Homo sapiens: one gene and its partners. The protein of the gene in region 4 purifies or fractionates together with the protein of the main gene of each other region. This does not show direct contact. Each region holds a gene or a part of one and is shown on either strand. Other genes may lie near its edges.

Evidence for each region.
Region 1: the proteins of GPR183 (region 4) and TSHZ3 purify together in Homo sapiens (affinity purification with mass spectrometry; 3 studies listed by BioGRID and IntAct, with this or other methods). This does not show direct contact.
Region 2: the proteins of GPR183 (region 4) and EIF2B3 purify together in Homo sapiens (affinity purification with mass spectrometry; 3 studies listed by BioGRID and IntAct, with this or other methods). This does not show direct contact.
Region 3: the proteins of GPR183 (region 4) and EIF2B1 purify together in Homo sapiens (affinity purification with mass spectrometry; 3 studies listed by BioGRID and IntAct, with this or other methods). This does not show direct contact.
Region 5: the proteins of GPR183 (region 4) and NRXN3 purify together in Homo sapiens (affinity purification with mass spectrometry; 3 studies listed by BioGRID and IntAct, with this or other methods). This does not show direct contact.
Region 6: the proteins of GPR183 (region 4) and GPC1 purify together in Homo sapiens (affinity purification with mass spectrometry; 3 studies listed by BioGRID and IntAct, with this or other methods). This does not show direct contact.
Region 7: the proteins of GPR183 (region 4) and CWC22 purify together in Homo sapiens (affinity purification with mass spectrometry; 3 studies listed by BioGRID and IntAct, with this or other methods). This does not show direct contact.

What each region holds. Positions count from the first base shown.
Region 1 is NC_000019.10:31,279,937-31,283,436, forward strand, and holds part of TSHZ3 (teashirt homolog 3), read right to left. Parts: intron 1-3,500. UniProt on the Homo sapiens protein: Transcriptional regulator involved in developmental processes. Functions in association with APBB1, SET and HDAC factors as a transcriptional repressor, that inhibits the expression of CASP4.
Region 2 is NC_000001.11:44,882,096-44,885,595, forward strand, and holds part of EIF2B3 (translation initiation factor eIF2B subunit gamma), read right to left. Parts: intron 1-3,500. UniProt on the Homo sapiens protein: Acts as a component of the translation initiation factor 2B (eIF2B) complex, which catalyzes the exchange of GDP for GTP on the eukaryotic initiation factor 2 (eIF2) complex gamma subunit.
Region 3 is NC_000012.12:123,627,187-123,630,686, forward strand, and holds part of EIF2B1 (translation initiation factor eIF2B subunit alpha), read right to left. Parts: intron 3,348-3,500; coding exon 3,211-3,347; intron 3,100-3,210; coding exon 2,983-3,099; intron 1-2,982.
Region 4 is NC_000013.11:99,300,900-99,304,399, forward strand, and holds part of GPR183 (G-protein coupled receptor 183), read right to left. Parts: intron 1-3,500. UniProt on the Homo sapiens protein: G-protein coupled receptor expressed in lymphocytes that acts as a chemotactic receptor for B-cells, T-cells, splenic dendritic cells, monocytes/macrophages and astrocytes.
Region 5 is NC_000014.9:78,705,373-78,708,872, forward strand, and holds part of NRXN3 (neurexin 3), read left to right. Parts: intron 1-3,409; exon of another isoform or gene 3,410-3,500. UniProt on the Homo sapiens protein: Neuronal cell surface protein that may be involved in cell recognition and cell adhesion. May mediate intracellular signaling. Functions as part of a trans-synaptic complex by binding to cerebellins and postsynaptic GRID1.
Region 6 is NC_000002.12:240,442,163-240,445,662, forward strand, and holds part of GPC1 (glypican-1 precursor), read left to right. Parts: intron 1-3,500. UniProt on the Homo sapiens protein: Cell surface proteoglycan that bears heparan sulfate. Binds, via the heparan sulfate side chains, alpha-4 (V) collagen and participates in Schwann cell myelination.
Region 7 is NC_000002.12:179,969,298-179,972,797, forward strand, and holds part of CWC22 (pre-mRNA-splicing factor CWC22 homolog), read right to left. Parts: intron 1,780-3,500; coding exon 1,644-1,779; intron 1,560-1,643; coding exon 1,353-1,559; intron 1,267-1,352; coding exon 1,204-1,266; intron 1-1,203. UniProt on the Homo sapiens protein: Required for pre-mRNA splicing as component of the spliceosome. As a component of the minor spliceosome, involved in the splicing of U12-type introns in pre-mRNAs. Promotes exon-junction complex (EJC) assembly.

The DNA of each region.
Region 1 (3,500 bases), on a different chromosome or scaffold from region 4:
GTGGTGTTTCTTTGGAGCAAAAAAAAAAAAAAATCTGCTCTTCAAACATAATTTGCCACCTTATTCTTCTCAAGGGGCAACAGCTTGAAATTAAAACTAAATTTGAAATTAATGAAGCACATTCTGGAGGTGGCATTCATTTCTAAAGTAATAAATTACTTGTATCAACCTCAGAGACAGCAGTTCCTGTCTGTCAATTAATATGTCTTATGCTTCTCCTACCCCTAATGCATTTCTTAACAGACAGATTCACAATTTAAATTAAGCAAGCATTTTTTACTCATTACATTTTTGAGGCTCAATCTTTAATAAATATAAAGTATAAAAACATCAATAAAATTTTTACCAAGTAAAAAGAAAAGTACGTCCATTGTAATAAGGGAAAAACAAGATTTTGTGGCTTTTTTTTTTTCTTTCTTCCTTCTGGAAAAGCAGGTCTCAGAAAAGCTTAGAGGTAGGTTTCCTGGCAGGGATAGGTGTGGGTTCGTTCCAGTTGAGAGGAAATACCCTGACCAGCTACCACCCAGCCCCCAGCCCTGTCCCCCATGTGAACACTCAGCCGTTCTCAGCCACCTGTGCACACACACTCTCCATGCAGAATTATGTCACAACAAGTTCAGGAAAATTGGTATGCGGTGCTCATTCCTGATGTATAAATATATACAAGACCTTCCAGTGGACCTTACAAATGTCAAAGTGTTTGCTCTTTAGACTACTTTGTCAATATTTACTCAGTATAAGCTTCATGGGCATCCAACAGAGATCCTGTCTTTCTGGAAGCGATGTAACTGGGATGTAAATCCAGCATGCATTCCCACGCAGGTGGAGGGCAGGCCACGCGCCTGCAGGTTCTGGAAGATGCACGTCCAGAGACACAGAGCCCAGAGAATACTTGCGTTAATGCAACAGGGTGTTTTTTTTGTTTTTGTTTTTGTTTTCATTCTCTTGCATTCGGTGACTTGGGTTATTCCTTACTAAACTGATCTGCCACTGCATACTGCATCAGGGTAGTTTTTTGGACAGTGAGGAGTGGCCAGCCCTGTGGCTAGGAACAATTTCAAGGTAAAGGAAAAGGAGAAATAAAGTGACTTTGTCCTGTCAGCTTCTAAATACTTGTTTGCTTCAAAAGGCCAGTGGGGAAGTGTGTTAAGTGGTTGGAACGTTGCAGTGCTAATTGCAAGGCTGATTTCTACAAAAAGCTCTTAAGAAAGGAAGGGAAGTTTTGTTTGTGGAATTGACTCCACCAGCTTTAAAGATTTGCCCCTGTTCCATTTCACATCAGAAAACCAACAACAACAATAAACAAACAAACAAACAAAAACAGTGAAATGAGTCCCTTGAAGTCAAGCAGATAGGCCCCCCTCATTCCTTCCAGGACAGGTGTGATTCTTTTGCTCCTAAGCCCCCTACTTTGAGTGCCAAGATTCCTAAGCCAAGACACATGGAATCCCAACACTGATGTAATGTGAACTTGGATGGGAACTGCCCCAGGTACACACATCAGCTGCAGGGAGGGGGATACTTCTGCTCATTTGCCAACTACTAAGCAAGAGTCTTGTCCAGGAGCCATGGATGTTCTTTACAAATGACCAGAAGAGAGTGCCCTGCTGCAGTCAGCTGAGTGTGAAGTGCTGTGGGGAACCTCAAGTTTAAGGCCATGCACTTTGAGATGACAAATAAAGACAGCAAAAGCTCTGTTCCTAGGGCCAAGACCAAATGCTTAGGGAAATACGGCGCTGGCCAATGGAGGCTCCTGTGCTAGCCACAGTGAAGACTGTGAATGCATGTGTTGGAAAAGAATAGGAAAAGAAAAAGAAAAGAAGACATCTCACTCTCCCTCACCTGCCCCCCGACAGACTTCCTCGGCATGCAGCACATTCTAGAAATCTGGACTCAAAACTCCAATGGAGTGGCAGGCCTGGAGGAAGAACAGCCGAGGTAGAATAACCAAGTGTCCCAATTTGCCTGGAGCTGTCCTGGTTTCAGCACTGAATGTCTTGCATCCTGGGAATTTACTCAGTCTTATGCAAACTGAAGGATGGCTTGTTACCCTAGCTGGGGCACACAGTATGACTGAGGTCAGAGCATCCAGGTGGGTCTGCAACCTCTCTTATAATCCTCTCGGGGAACAGCTGGAGCAGAGTAGGCTGGGTTTAGCTAGACACAGCCCACTGTCTGCAGAAGTGCACCGGGTGCATGCATATATGATGTTTCCATAGTACGGTTTTATTGTAAACGGGGAAAGAGGAGGAAATCCCATGGCTGGTGTCCCTCCCACTGAGACTCAAGGAAATGCCCAGGCCTGTGTAGATGGGTGAAGATATCAAAGCCCCTTCTGTCCTGGAGATGCCTCTTGGAGCCACAGTCTGCAATACAAACCCCACACCCTGGGGATTTTGCTCCTATTACAGTGGCTCCCATGAAATTAAGTCTGAGAGAGAAATGGCCCCACAGCAGCCACTACGAGAGGACACCAGCAGCCAGAAGCAGCAGAGCCAATAGTGGACATGAAAGAGTCCTCTGTGGGTGAAGGCCACCAGGTGAGAGGGAAACCCAGGGGCTCTGCCAGCCCACATTCCACCCAGGGGCAATGCATCTCCCCATGGCCAGAGCCTTCCCCACCCCCACTGCACAAGCACCAAACCAGCCCAGGCCGTCCGGAGCACCCCTCCCCAACACATGCACCATGAATGATATGACCAGCTCCTCTCCTGGGCTGGCCCACAACACGCTCTGATATGCTTTGTAAACTACACAGCAGGGTCAGAATGTCATCAGTCTGATGACTGAGGAGGAAATTAATATGGAAAGAAAAGGCCAACCTCTCAACCTCCCTGGTGGAACAAGATCCAACTCAGAGGAGAATTAAAAGGCTCTGGTGCCAAGCAGAACTGGGTCCTGGAGAGACCTGGCCTCACCGCACACCCCACTCCTGACCATGTCATGGTTTCTGAGGGTTCTTTCAAGCGCACACCCTCGTGGCTGTGACGTGGGCCTCACTCCCTGTTCAAATGACCATTTTCTTTTCCGATCTGAAGGTGAGAAGTATTTCCTTAGGTGGAGCCTAAGACTTTTACCCACTGGTTCTCCCCTCCACATTAAAATAAAGGGAAGGGCTGGGCGCAGTGGCTCATTCCTGTAATCCCAGCACTTTGGGAGGCCAAGGCAGGCAGACTGCCTGAGCTCAGGAGTTTGAGACCACCTTCGGCAACATGGTAAAACCCCATCTCTACTAAAATACAAAAAAATTAGCCAGACATGGTGGCACATGCCTGCAGTCCCAGTTACTCCAGAGGCTGAGGCAGGCGAATCACTTGAACCCGGAGGTGGAGGGTGCAAGTGAGCCATGACCCACCACTGCACTCTAGCCTGGGCAACAAAGCAAAATCCTATCTCCAAAAATAAATACATAAAAATAAAGGGAAAATTCCCATCTTCCACCATGCTTTGCAATAATTTCACTACTCTGAGAATATTTATACTCTTGATTACTGAACTTT
Region 2 (3,500 bases), on a different chromosome or scaffold from region 4:
TAGAATTTTATATTGCTAATTAATTTATGTAGCATTTACCAAGCATATGCGAGTTACTGTGCTAGGCCTTGGAAATACATCATTTCTGACTTCAAGGAATTCATAATCCAATGGACAGTAGCCTGTATGAGTTTAAGAGGAAAAGCAGAAGGTTAAGCTAATCAGGTAGGCAAGGGGGCCAGATCACGAAAGCTTTTTGTGGTGAAACCACCTTTGCAAAAATAACAGTGACAAAATTATGACAGTGAAAGAAATCTGACCTAATCAACTCCATCTTGCTGTTAACCTCCAAATTGCTCTTGCTCATTCCTGGACATAGGCTGAGCTAACTTTGGGAGAAAACTTTTTTTTTTTTTTTTCTGAGACAGGGTCTCACTCTGTCTGTTGCCCAGGCTGGAGTACAGTGGTGCGATCTCAGCTCACTGCAACCTTTGCCTCCCAGGTTCAAGTGATTCTCCCACCTCAGCCTCCTGAGTGGCTGGAAAGCTGGGATTACAGGTGTGAGAGCCACATGCCTGGCTAATTTTTTTTTTTTTTTTGAGACAGTCTTGCTCTATCGCCCAGGCTGGAGTGCAGTGGCATGATCTCAGCTCACTGCAACCTCTGCCTCCTGGGTTCAAGTGATTCTTGTGCTCCAGCCTCCCAAGTAGCTGGGACTACAGGCACATGCCACAATGCCTGGCTGTTTTTGTATTTTTTGGTAGGGATGGGGTTTTGCCATGTTGGCCAAGCTGGTCTCAAACTCCTGGCCTCAAGTGATCCGCCTGCTGCAGCCTCTTAAAGTGCTGGGATTACAGGCATGAGCCACTGTGCCTGACTTTTTTTTCTTTTTCTTTTTTTTTTTTTTTTTTTGAGATGGAGTCTCGCTCTGTGGCCCAGGCTGGAGTGTAGCGGTGCGATCTTGGCTTATCGCAACCTCCACCTCCCAGTTCAAGTGATTCTCCTGCCTCAGCCACCCAAGTAGCTGGGATTACAGGCGCCGGCCACCATGCCTGGCTAATTTTTGTATTTTGAGTAGAGATGGTGTCTCGTCATGTTGACCATCCTGAGGTCAGGAGTCTTGAACTCCTGACCTCAGGTGATCCGCTTGCTCCGGCCTCTCAACATGCTAGGATTACAGGTGTGAGCCACCATGCCTAGCCAGAAATTTATTACAGTTTATAGTTTAAATGATAATAGCCCTTCTCAAAATGAAACTGCCTTTATAAAACTAATAAAAGCGTACAAATTTAGGATTACAAGAGGGGCCTGAATTCTCATGATTACCAATCATTTTTCCAAAGGTCACAAGATTTGCAACTTCCCCAGTTACTCCTGTAAGTAACATCACTATTGTTGAACCTAAGATTGGCTTTTTAAGATGTCTTTTCTGACTTTTGCATTTCTGATGACTGGATGACTCCACTGGGACCAGTGACCCCTCTGTGGCCCCCATCCAAAACTGGGCTCAGCAGAGGACTGGTTTCCACACCCCTATGATTGCATCCCCAACCAATCAGCAGCACTCATTCCCTAGACCCCTGCCCACCAAACCATCCTTGAAAAACCCTAGCCTCAGAATTCTGGGGGAGGCTGATTTGAGTAATAATAAAATTCTGGTTTCCCGTTTAGCTGCCTCTATGTGTATTAAACTCTTTATTGCAATTCTCCCATCTTGATAAATCGTCTCTATCTCGGCAGCAGGTAAGATGAACCCACTGAGGAGTTACAGTAGCAGTCTAGAAAGTCTGGACTGAGAAGCCAGTGGTAATTTTTCCTTGTTAGACGGGGTCTTGCTCTGCTGCCCAGGCTGGAGTGCAGTGGTGCAATCACAACTCACTGCAGTCTTGACTACCTGGGCTCAAGTGATCCTCCTGCCTTGGCCTCCCAAGTAGCTGGGACCACAGGCATGTGCCACCATGCCCAGCTAATTTTTTTATTATTTGTAGAGGCAAAGTCTCACTATGTTGCCCAGGCTGGTCTTGAACTCCTGGACTCAAGCAGTCCTCCCACCTCAGCCTCCCAAAGTGCCGGGATTACAGGTGTGAGCCACCGCACCTGGCTGCCAGTGGTAGTTTTTAAGCAAGAAAGTGACATGAACAGTTTTATCTCTTATTAAGGTAATTCTGGTAGCAATGTGGAAGAAAGCCTGGAATAAGGAAACTGAAGAAAGGGAGACCAGTTACAATATTCTGAGAGATGAGATAATGAGGCCTGAGAGAGGGGTGAAAGTATGGGCAGCTCTATAAACCTGACTTGCTGCATACTTCCCACCACCTCTCCCAGCCCCCATTCAAAGCTCTGCATGCTGACACAAAACCAAACAGATGGAGTGTAGGTAGAAAGGAAGGCAAGACAGAGGCAGAGGCTGAGGAGGGTAAGGAAAACTATGAACCCTGGAGCTACACAGTTCATAGTTTCTGCAATTTTTAAAGAATCAATTTTGAAAAATTCTGTGTTAAGCTGTGAGCTCTTGTATTGAATTTCAATGTGATTTTTCTCCTGATCCTTTGATGAAGATTTAAAAATTTCCATGTGAATACAAAGAATGAAGCAACACTTACTCTTAGCTCTTTTTCTCCCCTTTTAATGCTTCAAACCAGTGTAGGCAGCAAATGTTCCTCCTCCATTGGAAAACAAGTCAGTTCCCTTTGAAGAAGTGACAAAGCACGGACAGCTAGGGGATTTCAGGGCCATGATATTTACATTACAGACCAAAAAGAACTGTCACTGCAAGAGGCAAGCAGACGAGCCTTGGCACATGGCCCCATCAGGCAGAACCTTCGAGAGGATCCATGATTTGAAGAGAGGCTATGAAACAGCCCTGCCAGGTCCCACCCACCTCTGCTGGAGCTCAACATTAGGTCAATCCCCATGATGCAGTTGACTTAGAAACATAATGAAGGAAACAATTACTCTTCCTGCTTCCTAGTTAAAGTGCAGGCAGCTCAGAGCTGTGCCAAGAAATGTTACAAAGCTACAGTGAACCATTGTGAACATCCTGGGCCTAGGCCACTTGCTGGATACAGTGCCCTGGTCAACCTTACTTTCTCCTTTCCCTCTTATACACAGCCTTCCTAGAAACACCTGTCTTATCTCATGAAATCATAAGCTCTTCTCAAGCAATCACAAAGGAGAACAATAGACTTGACTACTAGCAAACAATCCCACCAAATAAAAAGACAAAATAATTGCTATGAATAGGGCAAAGAATATTCTTAATAAACAGATATGTGTTAAAAAAACATATAAAATATTTTCAAAGAAGTAAAAAACTAAAATAAGATGCAATTTCTCCTCCAACTAAATTAACTGATTCAAAACAATTTTCATTACTGATAAGAGTGCTTTGAGAACCGTTACTGTCACATAATGGGAGTCGGAGTATAAACTGATAAAATCTCTGAAAAATAATTGGCAACATTATAGCAAAAGACTTGAAGATATTCATATAATTTCACCCTGTAATTCCATTTCTATAAGTCTATCCTAAGGAAAATATATTACTCAGTAAATATTTG
Region 3 (3,500 bases), on a different chromosome or scaffold from region 4:
CAGGCTCCTTGCTGCTCACTCACACCCTCTGCACTGCGGCACGTGTTCCCGACACCCTAAGCATCTCTGTACACTTTCTCACAAATCAACCACAACCAGAAAGGAGACCTGATGGTACAGTTTCCATCCCATGTGCAAGCTAAAAAAGTTTCTGCCAGGTCTCACATCCTGTAGCAGGTGCAGAAATGGAACTCCCACACAGTGTTACCCAAAGGATACAAAAGCCTGGATAGCTGAAGGCTCCATGAGGTTCCCTTGGGTTGGTTTTCCTATTTCTAAGACATGGTTTGCACACGCAGGCCTACAGGAACCAAGTAGGTAGCAGAAGTCACTGCAGCAGGTTGGGTGGGGCCAGCAGCAAAGCGAAAGGCTACAGAAGGCTGGGTGTGGTGGCTCACGCCTGTAATCCCAGCATTTTGGGAGGCCAAGGTGAGAGGACTGCCTGAGCCCAGGAGTTCAAAACCAGTCTGGGCAACTTGGCAAGACCTCATCTCTACAAAAAATAACAACAAAAAAAATTAGCTGGATGCAGTGGCATGTGCCTATAGTCCCAGCTACTTGGGAGGCCGAGGTGGGAGGATCACTTGAGCCTGGGAGGTTGAGGCTGCAGTGAGCCATAATCATGCCAGTGCACTCTAGTCTGGGCAAGAGAGTGAGACTCTGTCTCAAAAAGAAAAGGCTAAGGAGGGCCAGGACTCCTCAGCCCCAGCTGGCGTCATGTGGCCCCAAGATTGCCAGACCAGGTGATGTTTCAAAAATCCAATTTTGAAATGATGGCTAACTAATTTTTTTGAATTTATAAACACTGTTTGGGGTAATCACAACCTATCTGTGGCGTGGATGCAATGTGTAGACACTTAGACATAATCTGTTTTCTTTTCTTTCTTGAGCCAAGGTCTTGCTCTGATGCCTAGGCTGGAGTGCAGTGCAGTGTTCATGGCTCACTGTAGCCTCGACATCCTGGGCTCAAACGATCCTCCCACCTCAGCCACCCCAGTAGCTGGGACTACAGATGTGCGCCACTGTGACTAGCTAATTTATTTTATTTTTTGTAGAGACAGGGCCTCTCTCCCTATGTTGCTCAGGCTAGTGTTGAATTCCTGGCCTCAAGGGAACCTCCGGCTAGGATTATACACATAAGCCACCACAGTAGGCCCATAACCTCTTTTTTTTTTTTTTTTTTTTTTTTTGGTGAGACAGGATCTCACTCCAATTGCCCAGGCTGAAGTGCAGTGGTATGATCTCAGCTCACTGCAGCCTCAACTTCCTGGGTTCAGGTGATTCTCCCACCTGAGCCTCCCAAGTAGCTGGGACCACAGGAGTGTGCCACCACGCCTGGCTAACTTTTTGTATTTTTAGTAGAGATGAAGTTTTGCCATGTTGCCCGGGCTGGTCTTGAACTCCTGGACTCAAGCAATCTGCGTGTCTTGGCTTTCCAAAGTGCTGGGATTACAGGCATGAGCCACCATGCCCAGCCTCCATAACCTCTTTTCTATGGAAGAGTGCAGAAGACAGAATAAGACAAGGGGGCAGAACCAGCTCTCTAGCTCCTTTCTGGGTCTCACCTGAGAACCCGTTAGGAAGGCAGGTTCGTGGACCCTAGCCCAAACCCACTGAATCCCGATCTGCATTTAATAAGACCCCAGCTGACTCCTCTGCATGTGCAAATCTGAGCAGCTCTGCTATAAATTTTGTCTAAATCAGTCCTGAGTAGGTGACTGCAGGTAAAGTACATACATACCACACTACACTAGAGCAAACGAAACCCGCACAATACTGACGGCACAGCAGGTCTGTGGAAGGAGAAGGCCCCAGCGAGAGGAAGTCACAACCTTGCCTCCACTTGCCCAAAAAAGGCTTCGTTTGCAACTGGCTTTTCTACAAGTTTCACTCACATCTATTATGCCATTTATTTAATAACATACTTCAAAGGTTGGGAAGGGGCTAATAAAATGGAGGACAAGATTTAAGAGTCAAAATGCAAGTAAATGATTTTATGATCAGGGGAGGCCTAGGTGGCAAAAGGACGTATGCTGGTGGGAGGGGCATTATGATAGTTTCATTACACCTTTACTGGAAGATGGTTCAACTTGCACCTCCTGTCTTTCCTCACTTATAAACACTGCGTGGCTTTACATCTCTGTAATAGCATCTAAAATGAAGTTAAAAAGAAAATTTCCCTCAATTTCCCTCTATTGCTAACCTTCACTAAGAAAGTCCTCAGTGTTAACCAGTGACAAGAGCTGTTCTGTTAATTCAGATTTACTACACATACAATCATAAAAATACTTCTTTAGTAAAACACTGTATTAAATCAAGAATCAGGGCCAGGTGCGGTGGCTCACGCCTGTAATCCCAGCACTTTGGGAGGCCGAAGCGGGTGGATCACAAGGTCAGGAGATCGAGACCATCCTGGCTAACACAGTGAAACCCCGTCTCTACTAAAAATAAAAAAAATTAGCTGGGCTTGCTGGTGGGCACCTGTAGTCCCAGCTACTCGGGAGGCTGAGGCAGGAGAATGGTGTGAACCCAGGAGGCGGAGCTTGCAGTGAGCTGAGATCGCGCCACTGCACTCCAGCCTGGGTGACAGAGCAAGACTCCGTCTCAAAATAAATAAATAAATAAATAAAATAAATCAAGAATCACACGTGCTGTCCCACTGTCCCTCTCTGCCTGTTTACAATGACAACCATCTCTAATAACAAGACCTACATTCATGCAGCACTTACTAAGTGCCAGGCACAATACCAAGCCCTCACACCCCTTGCCCCTTACATGTCTTGCCTCATTTAATCCTCACAACAACCCAAGGAGGTAGGTACTATTGTCATCCTTATTTAACAGATGAGAAAGCTGCACAGACAGGTTAAGTTACTTGTTCAAGTCTCCACAGCAAGTGAGTGGCAGAGCCCGGATTTTACCCCAGGCAGTCGGACTCGAAACCGTTGCTCCTCCTTACCACCATGATGATTATCCACTCACCGCTCCATCTTTGATGAAAGTATGGCACAGATCTGCAATTTTGTTTCTTGACAGTGATATTCTCCTGAGAAAAAGTTCTCCCCGCTCAATCATGATCTTTTTACATTTGGAGTAATCCTAGGAAGAAAAGAGCAAACTGAGGGGACAGGGAAGATCCAGTTAATGCTGAGAATGTCTGTCACTAAACAGAGAAGTGGAAAGGTAACCCCAGGGAGAACAGGCACTTACGGAGTATTCCAGGGAGGCAAGACTGATGAAGCGGAGGAAGAGCTCCCCGCCAGAGGACACTGCCACAGAGGAGTCCACACCACACAGGGTTTCTATGGCACTGGTGAGATTCGCCCTCAGACCCTGGATTGTCTCCCCTGGAATGATCCAACAAGGAATGTGATGTTCACATTAGGGCCACAGCCCCGACCTGTATCTTCAATTCATTCATTCATTCAGTGAATATTTACTAGGTACATACTATATACCAGGCACTATTCTAGATGCTAGGGATACATCAGTGAACAAGA
Region 4 (3,500 bases):
GGTAGAAAATTTATTCTTAAGTATATTTTAAGTATTTTACATTTTAATTATTAGGCAGCAGCTTCTGACATGTTATTTAAGATATATTTATATAAACTAAGGTATACTAGAAAGTATTATCATTTATCATTGTATTGCCTAGGGAAAAGCCCAAAGAAATGTTAGTTCTAAATCTTTTTTCTTTAGAACACTAATATCAGAATTATAGCTTCCTCATAATGCATTCTAATGAAAAGATGCACGTGGCCCCTCAGCCGTCCTTCGTGCTGCCCACACTGAGGGACAGGAGTCAGGACAGAGGCCTTTCCCTGGAGGGCATGGATAATGACTGGGCCACAGGAAGCCTGGATCCTTATTCAGGTTCCACCTGTGGAACAGGGCCCTGTCGGCCTTCAAGGCTCCTGTACCTTCTGCTGGGAGCCACCCTGGAAGCCATCTATGCCATTCTCTTATTTTTATTGGTAAACAAAGGAGACAATCCCAGTTTTGCCTCTGTAATGCAGTACTTGGTCCTTTTAACTTTACTGTTATCCTAACATGTGTAAAACAGTAAGTTTCTTCCTCAGCAAAATATCTTCCAAAGTATTTTTACTTATGCTTTGAGAAGTGAGCCTGTGTGTTTTTTTCTCTAGAATGTATTTCATTGCTAATAGAGTTGCTAACACTTCTTGAGATATTATCATCTCATTTTTGCATAACCGGACATGTTGACATGAACTGACAGGTTCTTTCTAGCCGCAAAAGGAAAAAAAAATAAAAGGCCCCCCAAAACTCATTTATTTAGCATCTAAGAAAATCCCTAGATACCCACTTGGAGGGATTTGTGATTTTTCACAGAGGACATGTACCTTCCATGGTCCTAATTTACTCGTTCAAGTAATTAAAGTGTTTTCTTAGCCTTTAATTTGGGCAGAAACAGAACAAAACCTTTACCATATTCGGGGATTTAGTTGGTGCTAGAATAACAGCTTTTGGTTTTTGCTGAAATGTCACCTTTGCCCTCTAATATTTATTTATTTTAATAATCATCAACACCTTGAATGAAAAGGGGCTTACCTAGGAATTCTGTTTAATTGTAGCCACTAGCAATGACTGGAATGGGTCAAGTTGTGCTGAGATGATCACCAATTGGAGGTGACTTCTCTGTAGGTCAAGTCTTCTCTAGAGTCAGCTTATACAGAGAGGTGACCTAAATCAATGTGCCCACAGTGGATGTACCAAAGAGGAACTTCCAGAAGCTCACTTTCAAAAACAGCCAGGGGAGCCACCCAGATGCAGCCACACAGATACTAATTATATGTGTATATTGTTAAGTGAGGAGTGTTTGATCTGATACACTGTCCTTGGCTACTTTGAGGAAAGGTTAAGACTGAGGAAAAATTTCTGGAGCAGGGAGAAATAAAATCATTGGAAAGGAGGGGGAAGATGAAAGCTCAGGGTTAATTGAAATTTCAAAGATATGGTTCTACTGAGGAAATAAAGATAAGCACAGATGTATCAGGATGGCAAGCTGGGGCTGTTTCAGCTCCCTTGAGAACAAACCTGCTCCAGGGAAGAAAGAAATCATTCATTACTTCTTCCTCTGGTTACCTGGTTTGATAAGTATTTGTCAATTATTTGAAAACGCCTTCTTGTTCAAACAGGGGCATCTAAATTTGGCCCAGTGTCACACATACTGGGTCCTAGCATTCAACTAGTGATTTTTCTCATCACCTTTTTCATTGACTAAACAGCCATCATCTGAGGGATTATGGGTGTTGTTTGCCTGTAAAATGGACAGTGGGAAACATGCATTCCTGGTGTGCAAGAGGAACCTGCACTGCTGTGGAGCTGTGACCAGCATAGTCAGAGCCTCCTGGTGCTTCATTAGTAAAGTCAAATTGTCCATTCTATTAATAATACGCTGCTAACCAACTGTCACAGTAGTCAGTACATGCCTCTGTGGCCTGGTTAAATACATCTTTGTACACTGTAAGGTGACTTTTTCCCAGCCAACTTTGAGTCCTAAATTGATAGCTATGTTTATGTCCATGATTCATTTTTTAGAAGGATTGAGAACAATGATATTCAGCATAGAGTTGACTGTGGTCCGTCTGTTTGGGGGACCTCCCCTGCCTCCTGGGGGCTTGCTTTCTGGCTTATGGAGTGTGACTAGCCGAGGGGCTTAGTAGAGGCAGCCTTATTGAGGAGCTCTGTGACCAGCCTGCCAACCCCATTGCATATCCTGGGTCAGACCAGCTCCCAATAGATCTGCGAAAGGCCATTTATAGGACCAAGTACAGAGAACTTCTTCAAGACAGAAAAAGACAGAAAAACATCTTCAAGACTGAAAAAGGGTTTAGCAGTCTACTGTTTCCTCTTTGTGCTTTATATGTGTCCTGAACCCAGTGGATGTGCAGCAAAGACCCACTTCGGCTTCATAGACGCGCTCCTTGGAAATGATGGAAAGGTGCTTGAGCACGGGAATTCTTTGGTTGAACACCCACTTGCACATTTGGGGTTTCACATATTCTAGTTATTTTCTTTCACCTTTCACTGGTAAAAGCCACCTATGTGGCTTTTGGTGGCTTTTATATTGAAAAGTATGGAAGTTATTGAAGATGAAGATGACATATGTTTAGAGAACTAAGAAACTAAGAATCCCACCATAATACTCATTTTAGTGTAAGAAAGATATTCTGTGTTTGTATCTGGCATGATTTGTAGGATGCAGCATGTGGGAAAACTGCATAATATAAAAAGGCTCTTTATAATGAAGCTCTGTGTCTATAATATTTCTCCTCTGAGTCCTGAATGTTTCTGGAAATAATATGTACCTTTTCTCTTTCAAGTTCAAGGAGTTTCAATTTTGTTTTTGTCTCTTATCAGATGGAAATTAGGGAGGAACATTAAATATCATTATTTTATGGATAAACTGAATTCCAGGTCAACTCGGTCATTCGCTCAGGGATCTTACTGTGGTACTCAAGGCAGGGGTCGTGAAGGCGCCCAGGACTCCGTGTTCTCCCTCACCTGCTGCCTCTGGTCAGCGAGCAGTCCCTGTGCCTCAGCCTTGTGCTCTGCTGCACATCCGTGTCTGTCTGTCTGCCTGTTGTGTGCCATTCCCGCCCTTCTGCCCGCAGCCACGGCAGCAGCTTCCCGCCAGGCTCTCAAACGGGGCCCATCCAACCCCAGGCAAACCACAAGCTCTGTGTCATGACACACAAGTTCCCTCATGATCTGAGCTCCATTCCTTCTTCAGGAGGGTTGCTGGTCAGCTTCCCCTGATCGTGGCCTGGCTCCAGGCATGCAAAATTACTTAGAACCTTTGGATATCCCACGTTCCCTCACAACTCTGTGCCCGGTAACATTCTTCCCTCTGTTTGATGTCCTCTGGCCCCTATCCTGTATCCTTAGCTCTTACTTTCCTTCAAGCCTTAGTTCTAAGTATCCCAGGAGCATTCCTGTTCTCCATCCTCTGAAAGGCAGTGTGGGTGTATTTGTGAGAGTGCTGTGCTCTG
Region 5 (3,500 bases), on a different chromosome or scaffold from region 4:
GCGTGGCTGTGGCTGTGGTTCTGCACAGAGCAGGTGGGGAAGGTGAAGATATTAACAATGGAGAGTCCCAGTTGAGCATCACTGGGCTACAAGTCCCTTGCCCTCCTGTCCTTTTCCTCTTGGTAGATAAACCTTCACAGAACCTCAATTCAGGACCCTATCCATTTCCAACAGAACCCCAACACCATGGGAGATGAAGATATAGGATTATTTCTTCCTAGGTTTGTGTGCCGGTTTAGAATTGTCTGTGTCCTACTATGTCTAACATCCCACTTGATCTTGACAACAGCCCTGTGAGCTGGGAAAGAGGGACAGTTTGTGGAACAGATATCGAGGCTCTTACCTTTGGAATAAATAAAATGGGACTCAGAAGGGTTATTCAGCTGTCAGTGAGAGTGGTGTTGGCTTTTTATTCACAACAGTGAAAACTCCATATAAATAGACAGGTAATTTCAGGGCCATGGAGTAGATAGAGCACTCACCCTCAAAGAGCCTTTGAGAGAAGTCTGGTTATCTCTGTCTGGCCAGTTTCTGGCCCTTGCTTCTCTTACCTATGTCTTCAGAAATCTTCATTCCGGCTATTCACCTTCTCTCCCAGTCTCAGTTAGGTACCCTTCTCACAGAAGAGTTCCTCTTCACTGCTCTTGTATCTTGTTAAAAGGCTTTTTTTTCCCTCCTTTTTATTCTGTCCCCAGCCTGCTGTAGCAATGCCTGATCTCTCTTTCTATTTATTGTTCCATGGAGCCAAACCTCCTTCTGTCCCTTTGGGATGACCTATTGTTATACATTAATAATTAACCTTTACTAGGAACTCTAGTCACAGGCATTTAACCCAAATGCAGAAAAAGCCAAAGTTTGTTTATGACAAAGAGTTCTCACATGCTAAGGTATAATAGTGAAGGTTAGAAAGGAGAAGCTGACACTCATTAAACTTTTATGATTTCTTTTCTGGTTTACTCACTTGAGTGATTGCCTGAGGATCCTGCAATATTTCCCTTTGCACATGGTCAGCCCAGTTTAGCTAAAATGAAAAATTCAGCTTTTGAATTGTGAAGTTGAGCATGCATGACTTTCCATGTAATGTTAAAGATAAGCCTCACAGGTGCTGCTAGTGGGGCCTGGTTCTGAGCATATGGACCCTGGGGCCCAAATGCCTAGGTTCAAGTCCTGCTCTGCCACTTATCAGCTGTGTGCCTGTGGGCCGGTTCCCTAACTGCTCTCTGTGTCTGTTTCTGCATCTGTAAAATAAGGCAATGATTACAGGTATCTCAAATGGGTGTTGTCTGTATCTAATGGGATGGAGAGGTGTTAAATCCTTACCATGGTGCCTGGTGGTAGGTGCTTAATAAGTGTTAGTATCATTATTTTCAATGTTATTGACTATGGTTAGGTCCACGGTCAAGGTTACATAATAGTGAGTCATTTTCAATGCTTCGCCATAGTTATATATCACTCTTGTAATATCCATTAGAATGCAAACAGCTTTGCTTGATTCTCTCCTGGTGATGAGAGATGGGAACTAATTCTACATTTAAATATTGGGGATTATATGATATGTGCTGGAGTGACCCATCCAATTAACTTTGTCTCACAGATATGGACAGATGAGGCTTATTTTAGAAATTAGCCATTGTTGTTTTGGAGATGATAATGCAACCTTTTCAGGGCTGTGGAAATAGCGAAATGAGATTAACAATAACCCTCCAAATAGCTGCGACTTTTGTGCCCTTATGATATTGCATTCCTAAGTGCTTCACATGTTTTAAATCATTTTATTATTACAAAATAAATAGTTTGTTTATTCCTATGTTCCCAATTTCAGGAGAGGAAACAGACTCAGAAAATTTACTTTGCCAAAGTCACATAGCTTGTAAGTAGTAAATGTGGAATTCAAACCTAAATCTGGGTCCTGACTTAGAATTTGAATAAGGTAATATAAAGAAAATAGGAAAATAGTTGGGACGCTCAATACTCAGATCCTTGTCTATTTCCCTTCCATTGTTTTCTGCTTATTAAGTTTTTATGGATACGACATTGCTCAGAGATCAGAGCGCCAAAAACCATTCCAGGGTACTGTATCAAATTTCAGTTCAAATAAGAGTAAAACTTTTTTGAAATTCTAATTTCATGGAGAAAGATTAATTTCTGCTTTTAGATGGATTATACCTGGTTTAGAAAGTCATAACAGATTTTTTTCCCATAGGTTATTGGGGTTCAGGTGGTGTTTGGTTACATGAATAAGTTCTTAAGTGGTTATTTGTGCGATTTTGGTGCACTCATCACCCAAGCAGTATACACTGCACCCTATTTGTAGTCTTTTATTCCTCACCCTCATCACACCCTTCCCCTCAAGTCCCCAAAGTCCATGTATCATTCTTATGCCTTTGCGTCTTCATAGCTTAGCTCCCACATATCAGTGAGAACATACAATGTTCGGTTTTCCATTCCTGAGTTACTTCACTTAGAATAATAGTTTCCAGTCTTATCCAGGTCACTGCAAATGCCATTAATTCATTCCTTTTTATGGCTGAGTAGTATTCATATATATATATCACATTTTCTTGATCCACTTGTTGATTGATGAACGTTTGGGTTGGTTCCACAATTTTGCAATTGGAAATTGTGCTGCTATACACATGCCTGTGCAAGTATCTTTTTCTTATAATGACTTCTTTTCCTCTGGGTAGATACCCAGTAGTGGGATTGCTGGATCAAATGGTAGTTCTACTTTTAGTTCTTTAAGGGATCTCCACACTGTTTTCCATAGTGGCTGTTAGACAGTCATAACAGATTTTTTTAACTGCCATCCTCACGTTCTCCACCTACCTACCCACTCTGCAGGACAGTGGCCATGGCTTTGCAGAAGTGTACACTAACCTTGGGTAGGGCATGGAGGCAGAAAGCTCTGCTGGACCCCCTTGCAAGGTGAATTAGTATCTGGTTCAGTATTCTTTGTAAAATCAGACTCTCAACTAAATCAATGTCCTTGACTGACTGGCTGAAATAGGGCTTCAGGGTGTCTCATTCTACCACTGTACAGAGGGCACATGCAATGTGCAAAAAATAAAAACAAAAACAGACCTCTGTCCCCACCAGCTTTTAACACTTACTCTTTTCTTTCAAGTAATATATCCACATGGTTGAAAAAAAGTCTAACACTGTAAGAGGGCACAGTGAAAAGTAAGTCACCCTCCCACTCCAGAATATTAATCCCGCAAATATACTCCCCAATGACAATTTTATAGTTCCAAAGAGACTTTATGCTTACTGGAGCATATATACATATAATGCCCCCACGCCCCCACACTTTTACACAATGATAACATAATGCACCCTCTATCCTGTTCCTTGACAATTTCACTTAACAATGTGACCTGGAGAGCTTCCACATCAAAACCAAAAGCAATACCTTGTTTGCAAGGCCTGCCTAATATTCCATTATAACGCTGTGCCATCTGCTATTGATGGTCATTTAGGTTGTTTCTGGTATTTTACTAAGG
Region 6 (3,500 bases), on a different chromosome or scaffold from region 4:
TCCTCCGGCCTTTCCCCACAGCTTGACTTCCCGGGCATCGGCCAACACGTACCCTCCCTGTTGCCGGGGCCCCCGCCTGGGCAGGCCTGAGCTCCACACAGGGTGGGGAAGGCCCCGAGTCCCTCCCGGTACCGGGTGGGGCTGGGTGCCGGGGTTGGGAGCACAAGTGTTTCCAGGGCTGTCGGAACAGTGCCACAGGCTGAGCAGCTGCAGCTGCAGACATGGGTCGTCCGTGGTTCTAGAGCCTGGAAGCCTGAGATCAAGTGTGCGTCCACCAGGCTGGCCCCTTCTGAGGCGTGAGGAAGTCTGCTCCACACTGCCAGCTTCCAGGTGTTCCTTGGCTGGTAAATCCCACCTTGGCCTCCACAGGCCGCTCTCCCCGTGTGCGCTTCTGTCTCCGAATTCCCCCTCTTCACAAGGACACAACTCTAATTGGGTCAGGGCCCACCGGTACCATCTCTTCTTAACGAGAGGTGTCACACAGACTCCACACCCAAAGTCACATCCTGAGGAATCGGGGTTAGGCCTCAGCCATGTGGGTTTTGGGGGTACAGTTTAGCCTGTAGTGGGGAGCTAGCCCAGCCCGGCACACCTACATCTTCCCATCAGGTGGCAAAGACCCCGAGGCTCTGGGTGTTTTGTGATTGTGGCCTCCTGAGCACTGGGCCGTGTTTCTGTAATGGGCTTAGAGCTCAGCACAGATGTGCCCGAGACCCTGGTGACAGTGTGAGGGAGTGACCACGCCCCAGCCTGCCACTCACCCCCGTCCACCTGAGGCGCTCTCTGGGCACAGCCTGGTCCCCACAAGCCTGGGAGGCCTCAGCGTCAGGCCCTGCACAGCTACTGGGTCCTTGGCCAGCCCCTCCTGCCGTGGGCCTCCGCTTTTCCCTCAGGTCCGGGTGGCAGGGCCGGGCCACTCAGGTGATGTTCCAGGTCTAGTGGTACAGCAGTGGCTGAGGATGCCGCCGCCTGTGCCGTCACAGAACTGGGGTGGGGGGCAGTGGCCAGGCTGGCCTGAAAACCTTCTCCAGGTTGCGTTGCGGGAGCCCAGGCTGGGAGAGTCGTGGTTCAGTGGTGTGAGTGTGCCTTGGACAGGCCCCAGTCTCCCACTTGTCAGGGGGCAGAGCCCTTCAGGTGGACTTTGGGCGGGGAGGCAGTGGGACTGCAGGGCGAGGGTTTGGAGATGTAGAGATGAGGGAGGCCTGGGGGCCAGGAGGCTGCACCACTGCTGTCTCCTGAGGCGGTGGCTGGCCGAGGAGGCCCGCTGCTCTCTTGTGCTGAGTGCCCCTTGGGTCCTGCAGGCTTGGCAGGGTGACAGGGCAGCCACCCAGGGGCTCCACCTGTCCTGCTCCTTCAGGAGGAGGAGACCTCCCAGGGCTGTGGTGGGGAGGAGGGCCAGCCACAGAGCCACTGCAAATCATCCCTGAGGCCAGGCGACTCGGAAGCAGAAACCCTGAGCCCAGCACGGGGCAGTGGGAGGTGAGGCCCAGCGGCATCTGTGAACTAGGCCTCCTGGTGGGCTCTCAAGGTCTTTGATGGGGCGCAGCCGGTGGACAGGGAGAGAAGGGTCCCTCTTTCCCCAGGCCCTCCCTCCCCTGGTCCTCTCCCACCTTTGAGGTGCCCCAGGAGTTCCCAGAGTCGGCAGCACCAGGGGCTGTCTACCGGGTGGGCTGAATACCACTTAGTTTGCAGATGGGAAAGCTGAGTCCCAGAGAGGGGTTCCCAGGGCTCAGAGCTGAGAGGCCTCGCCGCCTGGGGCCAAGCCCCACACTTGCTTGCCGAGTGACTCACTCCTGCTCTGGGCCTGGCTAGCAGGGGTGAGGCTGGGTCAGAGGATGGGGAGCTGGGCCAAGGCCACAGACTACCCCGCAGGTGCAGGCACCCAGAGGCCTGAGGGGCACCGGGAGCGCACAGGAGGGGAGGCTGTGAACACGGCCCGGCTTCTTTGCAGCTCCGTGTCGGGGCCATGTGAGGACACACACCGCAGGAGGGCCCGGCCAGCCTCAGCCCAGCCCAGCCGCCACGCCCGGTGGGTCTCCTGAGGTCAGAGCCAGCCCCACAGTGGGCACCACATGCCCGCCTGCTGTCCTGGCTCCTCCTGAGGGACAAGGGTGAGCTGGGCGGGCCAGGAAGTACAACGCTGCTAGGCTTCTGCTCTCGCCCCACAGAAGTTCAGGTTCTACTGAGAAACTTGGCTGGGGCTTCCGGGGACTCCCAAATCCAGCCGCCCAGGACCCTGCGGCACTGTCCATCCTGAGCCCCGTCCTCACCCGCTGGTCCATCCTGGGGTGATGGATCTGGCTGCAGTGACCCCGATGCTCTGAGGCCCAGAACAGCACGTCTCCCTCCTGGGAACAGCCAAGCCTTAGGCCCATGCAGCAGCGACCGGATCCCTAGCCTCCCCGGCAGGGGTGCTTCCTGGGTGCGCCATCAGCAGTGGGACCTGTAGGGAAGTCTGTGGCCTGTGCGCACCTTCAGACGATTTCCCCAAACACCGACGACAGCTGTCCAGTGCGTCACAGAGCTGTGGCCTATGGGTGATCGTCTCAGCCTGTCCCTGCATCTGGTGCAGCCTCAGTGCCCACTGTGGACCCCGCAGCCCACCCGTGTCTGGCGCATCCTTGGTGACTGGGGCTCCCTGTGGCTGTCTGATCCCATCCCTGTGGTAACCCATGTGTGACGTCCAAGTGTCTCCTCAAGAACCGGGGCCAGGAGGCCCATCCTTGGCTCTGGAGACTGCAGGGAGAGCATCCCACCCACCTGTGACCATCTACCAGGCCCTGGGGACAAAGCTGATGCCACCTGCCACCAGGGTTGGCTCAGGCGTTTACATGCATCTCCAGTTGTCATGGAGCTTGGGACACACTGGACCCAAGGAGGTATTTTAAAAGGACAAGTCTCTCACGTAATCCAGCCCCACTGTTCCTGAACGCGATGCCCCCTCCCCGAGCCTGGCGGGGGGCTGTACACAGAACACTGCTCAGCATCTTCAGTCTCCCTCCTGTGGCCTCACACCCAGGATGGTAGGTGTTAGAACAGGTGCCTCCCTGTTCTATGTGCGTGGCCTCATCCTGTGGGCAATTTGGGGTGAGGGGTGGCTGCAGGTCAGACAGATACCTGGGAAGGTCCCCTGGGATAGGGTGGCTCCCAAGCGGGAGCAGTTGCCCTGGGCACTTGTGACATCCCAGTGATTGAGGAGTGGGGGTGCTCTGGTGTTTAGTGGGTGGGGCCAGGGAGCCCAGTAATCCTGCAAGATGGAGGTGCCCTTCCACAAACGCCAGTAGCACCCCCAAGAGAAATACTTGAACTGAAGCTATAGGCAGAACCACGCCAGGGGAAGAGGGAGCTCAGGGGAGGGGGCACCACTCAGCGCCAGGTGCTGGGATGGGAGGAAGGGCAGACTGTGGTGGCCAAACACCAGCATGCAGGAGGGTTGTTCTAGATGCATCCATCCTTCTGTGGGTGCACGGATGAGGTTCTGGATGTAATTCATGGGCTTC
Region 7 (3,500 bases), on a different chromosome or scaffold from region 4:
AAATGAAATTATAACAGAAAAAAAGAATCTGGCATATTACAGTGAAAAGCTCCTAGGAAATCAGCATCTAAGAAGAGAAACTCATTATTATAACAGGTTTTTAGGATAATGCAGAGGAATGGAAGATTTCTCCCAATTTTACTTTTCATTTCAACCTTCTACTTCTAAGCACTACTGAACAATGGAATGCAGACAGAGACAGAGTTCTAGGTTTCTGCTTTCTCTGTATATGAGACTACATAAGGCTGGTCTTTATGTTAAAAGCAAACAAATGACAAAAACTAAAATTACATTTTGCCCAATGGTGCTGTTAGCCTGATAAAAGATTTTGCAAAGCTAACCAACTCTTTACATTTCTATTATAATCAGAGAGCTTTTAATACAAACTTTTGGGGTTTAATACAAAGGTAAATTTTATTGCTTCCACAGCAATAAATACTTCTCCAGTAAAATTACAACTCAAGAGAAATAAGCCCATAAAATTATTATGTAAGTAGGCCTGAGTGTTAGCTTTAGGAGGAAAATAATACAAATGTGAAAATAGTAACTAATAATAGCTATCATTGTAGGTGATAATACACAACACTGTGTTTTATATATCCTTCCATAGAAAGGTAACATTTAGTCTTCCAACAAACAAGTAACTTGCTACAGGTCACTCAGCTAGTAATGTCAAAGATAAATTACACATCAAAACCTGTCCAAAGTTAGTACTTACAATATACCAATGATGTACAAATGAAAATGATCAATTTATTTTATCAGAGAGGCACCAATACTATGATTCATCCTACCAGAAGGATATTAACCTGACCTCAAGAAACAATAAAGTATAGCACTTTACAATAAAGTATACCACTTAATTGAATACTAAACTGGGTGGCACAGAATGTAAATGGTAGAGAAGCTAAATAAAGGCCACCACTAATCTATGAATATTTCTTAAGATGGGTGAGACGTAAGTGTTGCATAGTTTAGAGGGAAAGAGGAAAGAACAATGGGGTAAGTAATTCAGAATGAAGTAAAAAACCCTGGGCAAGCACCAGGAAAAAAATAATGCCCGAGGAAACAGCTAAGAGAATAACTTTATAAGAGCAGCGATTCATTAGGTGGGGATCTCTAAATATTTGCTATCAGTATTACGTAACTACTTAAATTGCTTCTACTTATCCAAACTAAATTATTTTATAAAATTTTACATACCTTTCTTAATAGCTTTGTACTTCTCTTCATTCTCCATAAAATTAGGATCCATCTTGAAAACATCTAAAAAAAATGTAAAAGTTAATGTTTATTTTCTATATTTACATTTGTTGGTAAGCCTCTTTCCAACTAACATGCCCCGGACTTACTAAGAACATCTTCTGGATTATAGTCATCCTCCAGAGGGAGCATATGAGTGAATTGATCATCTTCTTCCACCAAATCAAGACCTTCTAGGATAATGGGGTGGTCCTTGAATCCATCTTTCCGTACAGCAAACATCACTTCAATCATATATTGAACTCTTTTGTCAATTTCAGACTCATGCAGAATGTTTCGAAGGCGTTCAAATATAGCTAAAAGTTAACAGAAAGAAAAGACAATAAAATAAGCAATAAATATAATAAAAACTTAACATCAAACTATGAATGTACACTTACCATTGATTCCTCTTGGTGACACTTGTGTTAATTTGAGGCCACATTCCTTAAGAAAACCAATAGCTACTTCAACGCTATCATCTGTTGGTCTTTCCAGGAGCAAAGTGAGCATCTCTAAGCATAATACTTCGTGTGCCTTAAATAAAATACATATACAAGGAAGAAACAAAATGCTTTTACATACATTAAATTATTTTTATAATTTCTAAAAATTAGTAAATCTGTTTACAATAATTATATTGCACATATGATGGGCAAAGTTTTATAAAGCACATGGAAATACTCCAAATATGGGATACAATTTTTCTATCACTTTTATTATCTGTCTACTAAGAATTTTCAGATGACTGTTTCAAAAATCTTAATTTTCTATGCTGAATACAACTATTTGAATTATCTTCAGAAGAAATATTCTTAGCCATTATGTACGGAAAGTGTCATAGATAAAATATGTTAAAAATCATATACTACTTTCTAATAAGGTAATTATTTTCATAATTACTACATAAGAAATAGTAATATGATTTATAATACCCTTCTCCATGATCACAATTCTTTATATACATTTCCCAATTCATTCTATCAGCAACTCTATTAGACACAAATAGTCCTTAAGTTACATGAATACTAATTTTATCACAAAATATCTTAACAACTTCTGGAACACAACAGTTTTGAATAGTCTATCTTTTTTTAAAAAATTAAATCAAACTATTACTGGCCACGTTCAAAAACTGACATTTATAAACAATGCCAGGAAGAGTGGGAATAAAATTCTATTGAGAAGTTTGCTAAGAGAAGAAAACGAACAACAAAGAATGTTTAAAACACCATACATATGCCTTTCTAAAGTCAGACAGTGATTTAAGATGGTGAGGAAAGAAGTCTAAATCTCAACTCAGGAGATATCTTCTTCCAGCTGTGCACAACATCAAAGACACCCACTACTTCTTTTTACTAGGGGAGGAGGGGTGTCAAACAGTCTTAGGTCAGTGACAAGAAAATACTGCCCTGTACCACAGCTGGAAGATGCAAAAAATTTATCATATCGAGTGTTTCATGGCAATGCCAAAAATCTCTAGTCTAAGTGTAATACACATTTAAAAACGGAAATATATCTCTGGTTACAGATGTGAAATTAAGTTTCCATGGTCTTAAGTAGCAAGTTATCACTGTAATAATATGATGACTAATTAGGTCAAAATCTAAAAGATTTGTAAGAGTGAAAGAATTTTCATGTAAATAAGAATCAAAATATTTAATATTAGTGAAATAAGACTAAGCATGACTTTAAAATTCTTCCTGTTATACATGATATTAAATTGGAAATGATAATATATATCTGAAGGAAACTTTTGAGTATGAGCAAGGACAATTTTAGCATTTTCATGGTTAAATAAAAGCTAAATCAAAACCATCAAATAATGAATATAAAATAAACACAAACTGAATAACAGCATGATAAAATTACCTGCATTTGAAACAGATTAAAATCGATCAACTCTATTCTATCAAGTGATTCTAAAAATATATGACTATACCTGTGTGGTTGCAAGGAATAGAGGTTTTTGTAGAATATCAGATATTTATTAGATTCTCATGAACAGCAGGGAATGAAGTGGAGGAGATACCAACTTTATTGTTTTATAAAAATGAAGGGAATGGTTCTTCAAAGGAATGGTTTGCAGTCAAGTAACCATGTACAGTATTAAGTCAGATTAATTTGATAAATATCTAAAGTGTTTTGATCAGCATCAAAGTGTTATATTAAAGAATATTAAATATGGCCAGGCGTGGTGGCTCACACCTGTAATCTCAACACTTTGGGAGGCCGAGGCTGGTGGATCACGAGTTCAG